2 linked regions of the Homo sapiens genome follow. The protein of the gene in region 1 purifies or fractionates together with the protein of each later gene. This does not show direct contact. Each region holds a gene or a part of one and is shown on either strand. Other genes may lie near its edges. The genes, in order: UNC5B and CIP2A.

What was found.
Region 2: the proteins of UNC5B (region 1) and CIP2A purify together in Homo sapiens (affinity purification with western blotting, with the first as the bait; one study listed by BioGRID). This does not show direct contact.

Annotation. Positions count from the first base shown.
Region 1 is NC_000010.11:71,215,445-71,219,261, forward strand, and holds part of UNC5B (netrin receptor UNC5B isoform 1 precursor), read left to right. Parts: intron 1-1,779; exon of another isoform or gene 1,780-2,191; intron 2,192-2,549; exon of another isoform or gene 2,550-2,784; intron 2,785-3,817. UniProt on the Homo sapiens protein: Receptor for netrin required for axon guidance. Mediates axon repulsion of neuronal growth cones in the developing nervous system upon ligand binding.
Region 2 is NC_000003.12:108,561,844-108,565,660, reverse strand, and holds part of CIP2A (protein CIP2A), read left to right. Parts: intron 1-206; coding exon 207-306; intron 307-2,416; coding exon 2,417-2,535; intron 2,536-3,817.

The sequences.
Region 1 (3,817 bases):
ACCTCTCTCTCCTTTTCCCCACCCCACCCCATCCCTGGTGAATATGGGAATGAGCTCCCTTTACAGCACTGAGAATATTTTTAAGCTGTAAAGTCTGATGCTGGAGAAATCAAAACTGGAACCATAAAACCCCAGACCCTTAGAAGGTAATGTCAGCAAGTGACTAGCCAGAAAAGGCCACTTCAAAAGCTCTGGTTGGCCCTGGAAATCTCCTCCCACCCCACCTTTCAGCCCTTCCTGGAGCTTTTAATGAGCCTTTCCATGGCCTCTGGCTGGGATGGTTGAGAAGGAGTCGAGGTGTCAAGATAATACTTCTTTTTAAGGTGCAATTAAAATCAGAGTTTTTGTAGTGTCTCTGCTTGGTGTGTGTGTGTGTGTGTGTGTGTGTGTGTGTGTGTGCTCGCGTGCATGCGCCTGTGCACACACAATGATAGCCTGTCCTTGTCTCCCTCTGCACTCACTGTAGCAAACACCCATCTCACTTAAACAAATGGAAAATCAAGTGTCTTAATGGGTTTTCTCATTAAAGTGAAAGTACCACTGCAGGGGAGGAATTTCTCCTGTAATCTCTCTCCTCCACCTCTCTCCCCTCCCCCACAAACAGGGAATTCTGTAGGATAAAACAGTTCCCCTCTTTTCCAATCCATTTATTTAACTGTTGACACTTTGGGACAGGCCAACTTGCCCAAGGTCACACTGGGACTCACCGGTAGCGCCAGGACTTGAACTGAGGCCTCACAACCTCAATCTAGTGCTTCTAGCTCCTTCATTCCATCTGGGCTGGAGACCCACCATCATGGGTGTGGGCTTGAGACTCTGAAATTGAGGCACCACTTAAGGCAGGCAGCTAAAGATAAGATCGCTTTGATGGCTGCTTTAGACTGGAACTCATGGCAGGATGGAGGAAAGAGGTTGAGAGTTGGAAGGGTGAAGAGGTGTTCCAGGAGAGGGGGAACAGGGCAGAGCCAAAGGTCAGGAGTGAAGCTCTGAGACCAGGCAAGTGCCCAAAGGTGGCTCCCCCAACCCCCAGCATTGGCCTCCTGAGCAACTGCCCTGACCTGGGGAAGGGAGACAGGTCACAAGCCAAGCTCCCTTGGGCTGCATGGCCAAATAAACATTAGCATTTTATAGCTCTGCACCCATTTGTAGAGTTGGGGACAGAATATGTTTTTACTTTTTACTTATATTCAAAGCTTTAGGAGCCAGTGCCCTCCCCCACCTTTGTTGTTGAGTTTCTCCTGGACCGCAGGTCTAGTGACCCTTTTCCTGGGTGTCAGGCTTAAGACGAGGTCTGCCTCCTACGCCCCATTCCCTGAGCCACAGAGGTTTTCTAAGGAGGTTTGTGGGCTGCCTAAGACTTTGGGGATGGGCTGGGGGGAGATGGATCATTTCCATTCCAAGTGCTCTCGGACCAGGTTAGTGATTCTGAATAGACAGTGCTGGTACCTCCCTCCCCCAGGGCCTGCAGGCAGCCCGTCTTTTGACCCTCAGAGTTGGGGTTGGGTGGAAAGGAGACAGTTTGGAGGCCACTGCCGCCTTCAGGAAAGGGCAGAGGGGGCTGGGTCATAGGCTGGGACTTGGGGGTGGGAGCCTGGGCCCAGGGAAACTGCTGCCTGGGCAGATGGCCCCCAGAGGGTAGGGAGGAGAAAGCCGGCGCTCAGGCCAGAGCTGGCGCTTCTCTTGGCGTCCTCCTCCTTCTCCTCCTCACCAGTTTCCTAAACAGCTTCCACAAATAGAGTCATTAAAGCTGTGAAGGCAAAATGAAACCAAACAAGTGCGTTCTGTGCTTTTCTGTTTCTTATTTTTTTAAGGAAATTAAAAATACCGTAATTAGAATAATACAAGGAGAGAACACTTTGCGGAAGGCCTAGGGTAAGGGCACTTCCCACCCACTGGGTTGGCTCAAGAGGTTGGGACTGGGGCGCCACCTCCCGCCCCCTTAGGGTCTGCGATCCGCCGGGGGCGCCGCGGGCTTTTCCGCCGGCTCCATGCATTTCCCTGAGGCAGGATCTTTTTGGGGGAAGCTGGCATCCCGGCGCTGGCCTCGGCCCCCGACTGGGAGTTGGGTGGCGCTTGATTGGAACTCCGGCCCGGAGCCGCCTCAGCCGCTGCGCCCCCGCGGGCAGACAAGCCCGGGCGGAGCGCGCTAAGCCACAGGTCCCCGCGGCGTTCCTCCCGGTCTTCGGGGATGCTAATGGCAGCGAAAATATTTGCTGAAGTGCAGGCATAAATCAGCCGCCTCCCCGCTCCCCCACCCCCACCCCTTTTGTTTCCTCTTCCTTCTCTCCAAAAGCGCTGGGCTGCTGGGCGCCAGAATTTACCTTTTCCATCTTAGCGGCCTGATTAGCATCGCCGCCGCTTGTGGGGCTGGATTCTACCCTCTCCTGCGTCCCCCACCCCCAGTCCCCATCTCCACCTCCCTCCCCAGCCGAGCTAAATCGGTCTGCGGAGCCCCGGGAGCTCTAACGCCACCGCCTAGCGAGTGAGTGCACGGAGCCGCCCTCCTTCTCACCTCCCAGAACAGGCTGCCCCCAGTGCTTGCAACTTACCCCTTCGCGGCGCTGCACGGCTCGGCTCACTTCTCCAAGAAGGCAGGCTTGTGGGTGTGAGAGTATGTATTAAGGAGTGTGTGGGGGGTGAGAATGTGTATTAAGCAGGTGGGCGGAGGTGGGAGTTTGCAGGGAGGGGAGGGTGGGTGTGGTGTTGCACTGGGGTGTCAGGTGTGTGTGGGGGCGAGGCATGGACTGGGTGTGTGCCGGAGGATGGATGTGTGTTTGAGGAGGGTTGTGCCTTTTGTAACTCAGGAGGTGTGATGTATAGGCTGTGTCTGTGTTTGGGTGTGTGTGGGGTGGGCAATGTCACATGGGCACACTTGTGGTGTGTTTGTGTATAAATAGGTATGTGTAATGTGGAGACAGTGAGTCACCACCAGGCATGGGAAGCTCCATCCATTGTATTCCGTTGGGGATTCCACTTCAGGATGGGACCCAGGCCATTTGCCCATCAGCACTTAAGAGACCTCATTTTGCCCCACACCTGCACTGTGAGCAGGGTTTGGCCTGAGTGCCAGGTTCTGCTGTTGGAAGGGCAGAGGACAGCTTCCCCTGCTGAGTGCAGATGGGATAGGCCTGCCTGCAGGTGGGTCCTGGTGCTCCAGGGGGAGGAAGGTTGGCAGAGATGGACCCTAAGCCAGCCCAGCAGCTTGGGCTACTGCCCCCAGGAAGATCAGAGTCCCAGACCTGGAGTCTTCTGCAGTCAACTCCCAGCTTCCCCAGAGCATGGGAGCGGCTGTGGTTTGGAGATCTGCTCTCTGACCTGGGTCAGCTTATGCTTCAGCCTGTCTCCCCCAAAGGGAGTGAGTTCTCCTCTAGAGTTTGCTGGAGAAGGGGCCAGCAGAGCTTGAGTGGGTGGGATCCCCAGTGGAGAACCCCATCTCAGGCTGACGTGGCTGGGGCCTGGGACTCTCAGCGGTAGCAATTTAAAGAGGACAGACACACCCACACACATGCTGGACTCCACTGTCGTTACAACTTTCTTGGTCACAGAAGCGCTTACCTGCTTTCCCAGGGCTGTCCACAGGAAGGACTTCCATCACTTCAACTCTAGGATAAGATGGACTGTTCTGGAGCAGGGAGGCCTATAGGAAAATCACAGTCCCTCGCCCCACCCTGGTGTGCATGTTGCTTTACAGTTTACAAAACCCTTTTATATGTGCAGTCTCACTTTGTCCTTGTAAGAACTCACCGAGAAGGTGGAAGCTCTCACTTAGAAGGCTGAAGAGACAGGACTGGGACCCAGGTTTGTATTAGTCAGGGTT
Region 2 (3,817 bases), on another chromosome or scaffold:
GCTATTAATGCCAGTTTGTTCTCTTTGGATCTTGAGTTATAAGAATGTTGATTGAGATTTTTACTTCTCAATAGAAACAGGACTTTATCATCTTGAATTTAAAAAACACAAGTGTTGGTTTTTTTCATTTTCTTTAGAATTTTGGACAGAAACAAGCTCTAAGAAATTTTTCAGTTATCTAATTTAAATGTGATTTATCTTTAAAGCAAACTTGCTGCTGATGTAATTTTGAAAACTCTTGATTTGATTAACAAACTTAAACCATTGGTTCCTGGTATGGAAGTAAGCTTCTACAAAATACTTCAGGTGAGTTTAAACTCTTCAAACATTGAAGTTTATTCATACATAAATGGTCCTAATATAAGTTTCTGTTTTAATATTCTTAATCTTTAGAAGATAATTCTCTTAGAATTGGCAATGAGAAGAAAGTTTAAAGTTGTTGTCTTAAGCAGTTATAATAGTCTCACTGCACAGTTATTTTATATACTTTCACAGGAATTGAACATAAGTGCTCATGACACTAATGTAGAGAATGTTCACAATAGTGCTGCTTCCTCAGCCTTTTCCTTTCTTGTGTTGTATTTGTATATTTCTTCATTTGTTTCTGTTGGCATTGGAGGAAGAGTGATATTTGTTTTAGGGTTTTTGTTTTTGGTTAGGGTTGATGTAGGGTATTAAGGGGATAGGGAGACAGCTGGAAGAAAAGGATTGTGATAATTAGAAGGGCTGTGCAGAAAATAGCTAACTCACAAATTTCAATGATAATAGTAGCTGAATATGATCTCTAGCTGTTATCAAAAGGCAAAGTACAACAAATTTAGTTCAAAGTTCTAACTGGCTTTTATTTATGATTCTAGAATTTGGCAGCCTCATTCTATAAAATAGAATGAATCATTCCCCTGGGCTAAGCAGAGAAGGTTGACTTTATAGACCAGAAAAGGGCTGAAGAAAGCACAAATAGGGAACTAAAAGCAGATTGGTCATTTCAAAGTTACTTTTCCTATAGAATTATAATAAAGGGGGCTTCCTTATTATACTAACTCAGGTTGACTGAAATCTCCTGGTTTTTTGGAAAACTGGCCCATTTCAAAGTGCAGTTTGATTACATGGCACTCATCCAAGTGACTCCTTTCTGGTTTGATCTGGTCTGCTAAAGCATAGTGGAGGAGACTACTCCAAAATATTAGCCTCTTAAAAACTTTGTGTAATAATATCTACAACACCTACCTTTACAACAGATGTTTAACAAAAATGAGTGAATTAAATTACTGCAGTAGCTTAACAGAGACATCTCTAGTGACTGTATAGACAGTGTAGAAGCCAAAACTGAAACCTTAGGCAGGGACCACTGGCATGTTTTGAGATTAAGGGACTGAGTTCAAATGTTGACTCTACTGGTTCTTAGTACAGGCTTGAGTAAGTTATTTCACCTCTCTCGACTTCAATTTCCTCGACTACAAACTGGAAATAATGAGGCTTACCATTGAGGGTTTTGGAGATAAAGCTCTGCTCTTATCACAGTTCTGTGACACTGGATTATACTCAAGTACCTACAAGGTACTCAATATTTTAATTATAAGGGATTTATATTTTAATATTTTCTTCACTAATATCTCAATGTATTTTTAAAGGAGTCAAACTGATGTTATGTCCATTATTTAAGATGTTTTTCATAATACAGGTTGAGCATCCCTAATTTGAAAATCTGAAATCTGAAATGCTCCAAAAAACAAAACGTTTTAAGTACCAAAATGAGGCTCAAAGGTGATACTCAAAGGAAGTGCTCACTGAAGCATTTTGGGTTTTTGGATTAGGGATGCCCAACCAGTAAGTACATGTAAATATTCTAAAATCTGAAAAAAATCAGAAATTTGAAACACTTCTGGTCCCAGACATTTTAGATATATGTTGATGACTTGGGGCTTACAATACTAATGTAAAATATTTACTGACATAAATGATTGAAGTAACTGTATTTTTTCGATCTTTAAATTTAAATGTTCTAATTTAATTTGAATTTTACTTTTTATTTTATAGCCTTAATTTGGAAGTGATTGGCCATTTTTTTCTTTTAAATGATAGCTTGGAAAAAAACATTAATTCTACACATCAGTCAGTTGTGGGTTTTTTAATCCACGAAAATATATAAGGCATAATTTTTATAGGCACATTTGAAAGCATTCAAAACCTTTGCCAGATTTTTTTAAACTGTTCATATTGATTGCATTGCAGTGTAAACAGCTATAACAAGGTATAATATATTCAAACTATATAGACTATAATATATTCAAACATTAGAAACATTTTAGAATTTGCCTAGAATTAAGATTTACATATATTTACTCACCTCCTATCTAAAAGAGCTGACATTGTTTATTCTTTCTGCTGCTTCTTTTTTGGTTTCTGATTTATTTAGGACCCACGTTTGATTACTCCTTTGGCTTTTGCTTTAACGTCAGATAATAGAGAACAAGTACAGTCTGGACTGAGAATATTATTGGAGGCTGCTCCACTGCCAGATTTTCCTGCTTTAGTGTGAGTTGTAATCATTTGCAGTGTATCTCTTGTGGTGTTGGAATACCCTGCTATGTCTCTTTAGTCCTCAGTATAGATACACAAGCAAATTAGTGAATTGAAGACTTCATTGTAATAGTAATTTTTCAAGTGATTTCTAAAAATGTTTGATTCTTATAAATGAAAAGTTCAGATGTATACTCACTCAGGGAAAAGCTAGATCCAGGCAGTTAAATGTTCTTCAGGTACTATCCCTCTATGTCTCTAGCCACTTCTTTTTAATGATAACTTCTGGACACTCTTAAGCCTACATCCTCCCAGTTTAGTTCCTCCATAGAAAGAGCTTTTCCTTCCTGACTGTTTAAGGAAAAGGTCTAAGCATTAGTCATTGACCAGGCCTGGGTTATCCATGAGAACGATGTGGACTAAAAGTTAGTTGGGATAGGAGAATAGGAGAGTTCCTAAAGAAAAAAATCTGAACTTTTATCAGAAAGTGGAAAAATGACAACCAGGCAAAATTTTCTACTATACTCGTTACTTTCAAGCAATAAGAATATTTGCAATTATGTTTGAAAAAAAATTCAGATTTCAGGGCTCTCTGAACTAAATGTCTATTAGGAGTCTGGTTTAAAATTTTTTTAAGTCATTTATATGTATGAATTTGTAAAAATGGTTTGAATAATTTGAAGTAGTTGATAAACAGGTAAGATATTCCCTGTATACCGGGATCAGCAAACTGGCCAGTGGACAGGCATCTGTTTTTGTAAATAGTTTTATTGGAATATGGCCACACCCACTCATTTTTATACTCTGTCTATGTTGCTTTCACTCTATAAAAGCAGAATTGAGTAATTGTGACAGAGACCAGATAGGTCCTTGAGTCTAAAATACTTACTATCTTGACCTATAAGAAAAAGTGCTGGTCCATGCTATATGCTATTCACTGATTTAGCGATTCCACTTTTCAGAATTAGCAATTTAGGTCATCATACCTTAAGAGTTAAAGTATGGGATGTAAGACCTAGAGAACATATAACCAAAATTCCCTTAATTTTATAATAAATATTTTTTTAACAGCAACAACAAAAATACACAGGAAGCTTTTCAAGTTACAAGTTAAAAGTGGTCTGTAAAGCTGCTCTATTTTGTGATGGCCTGCTTGCATAAACTGGTAATCTGACATGAAACAAAACCTTAAGAGCTTCAAAGGGGAATCTGCAGCCTCACTGAACATGGAAGTCTTATCCTCTGCCTCTGTGTGTGAGGCCTTCCCACCATTTTGACTGTGTCTTGGCATTCCCTG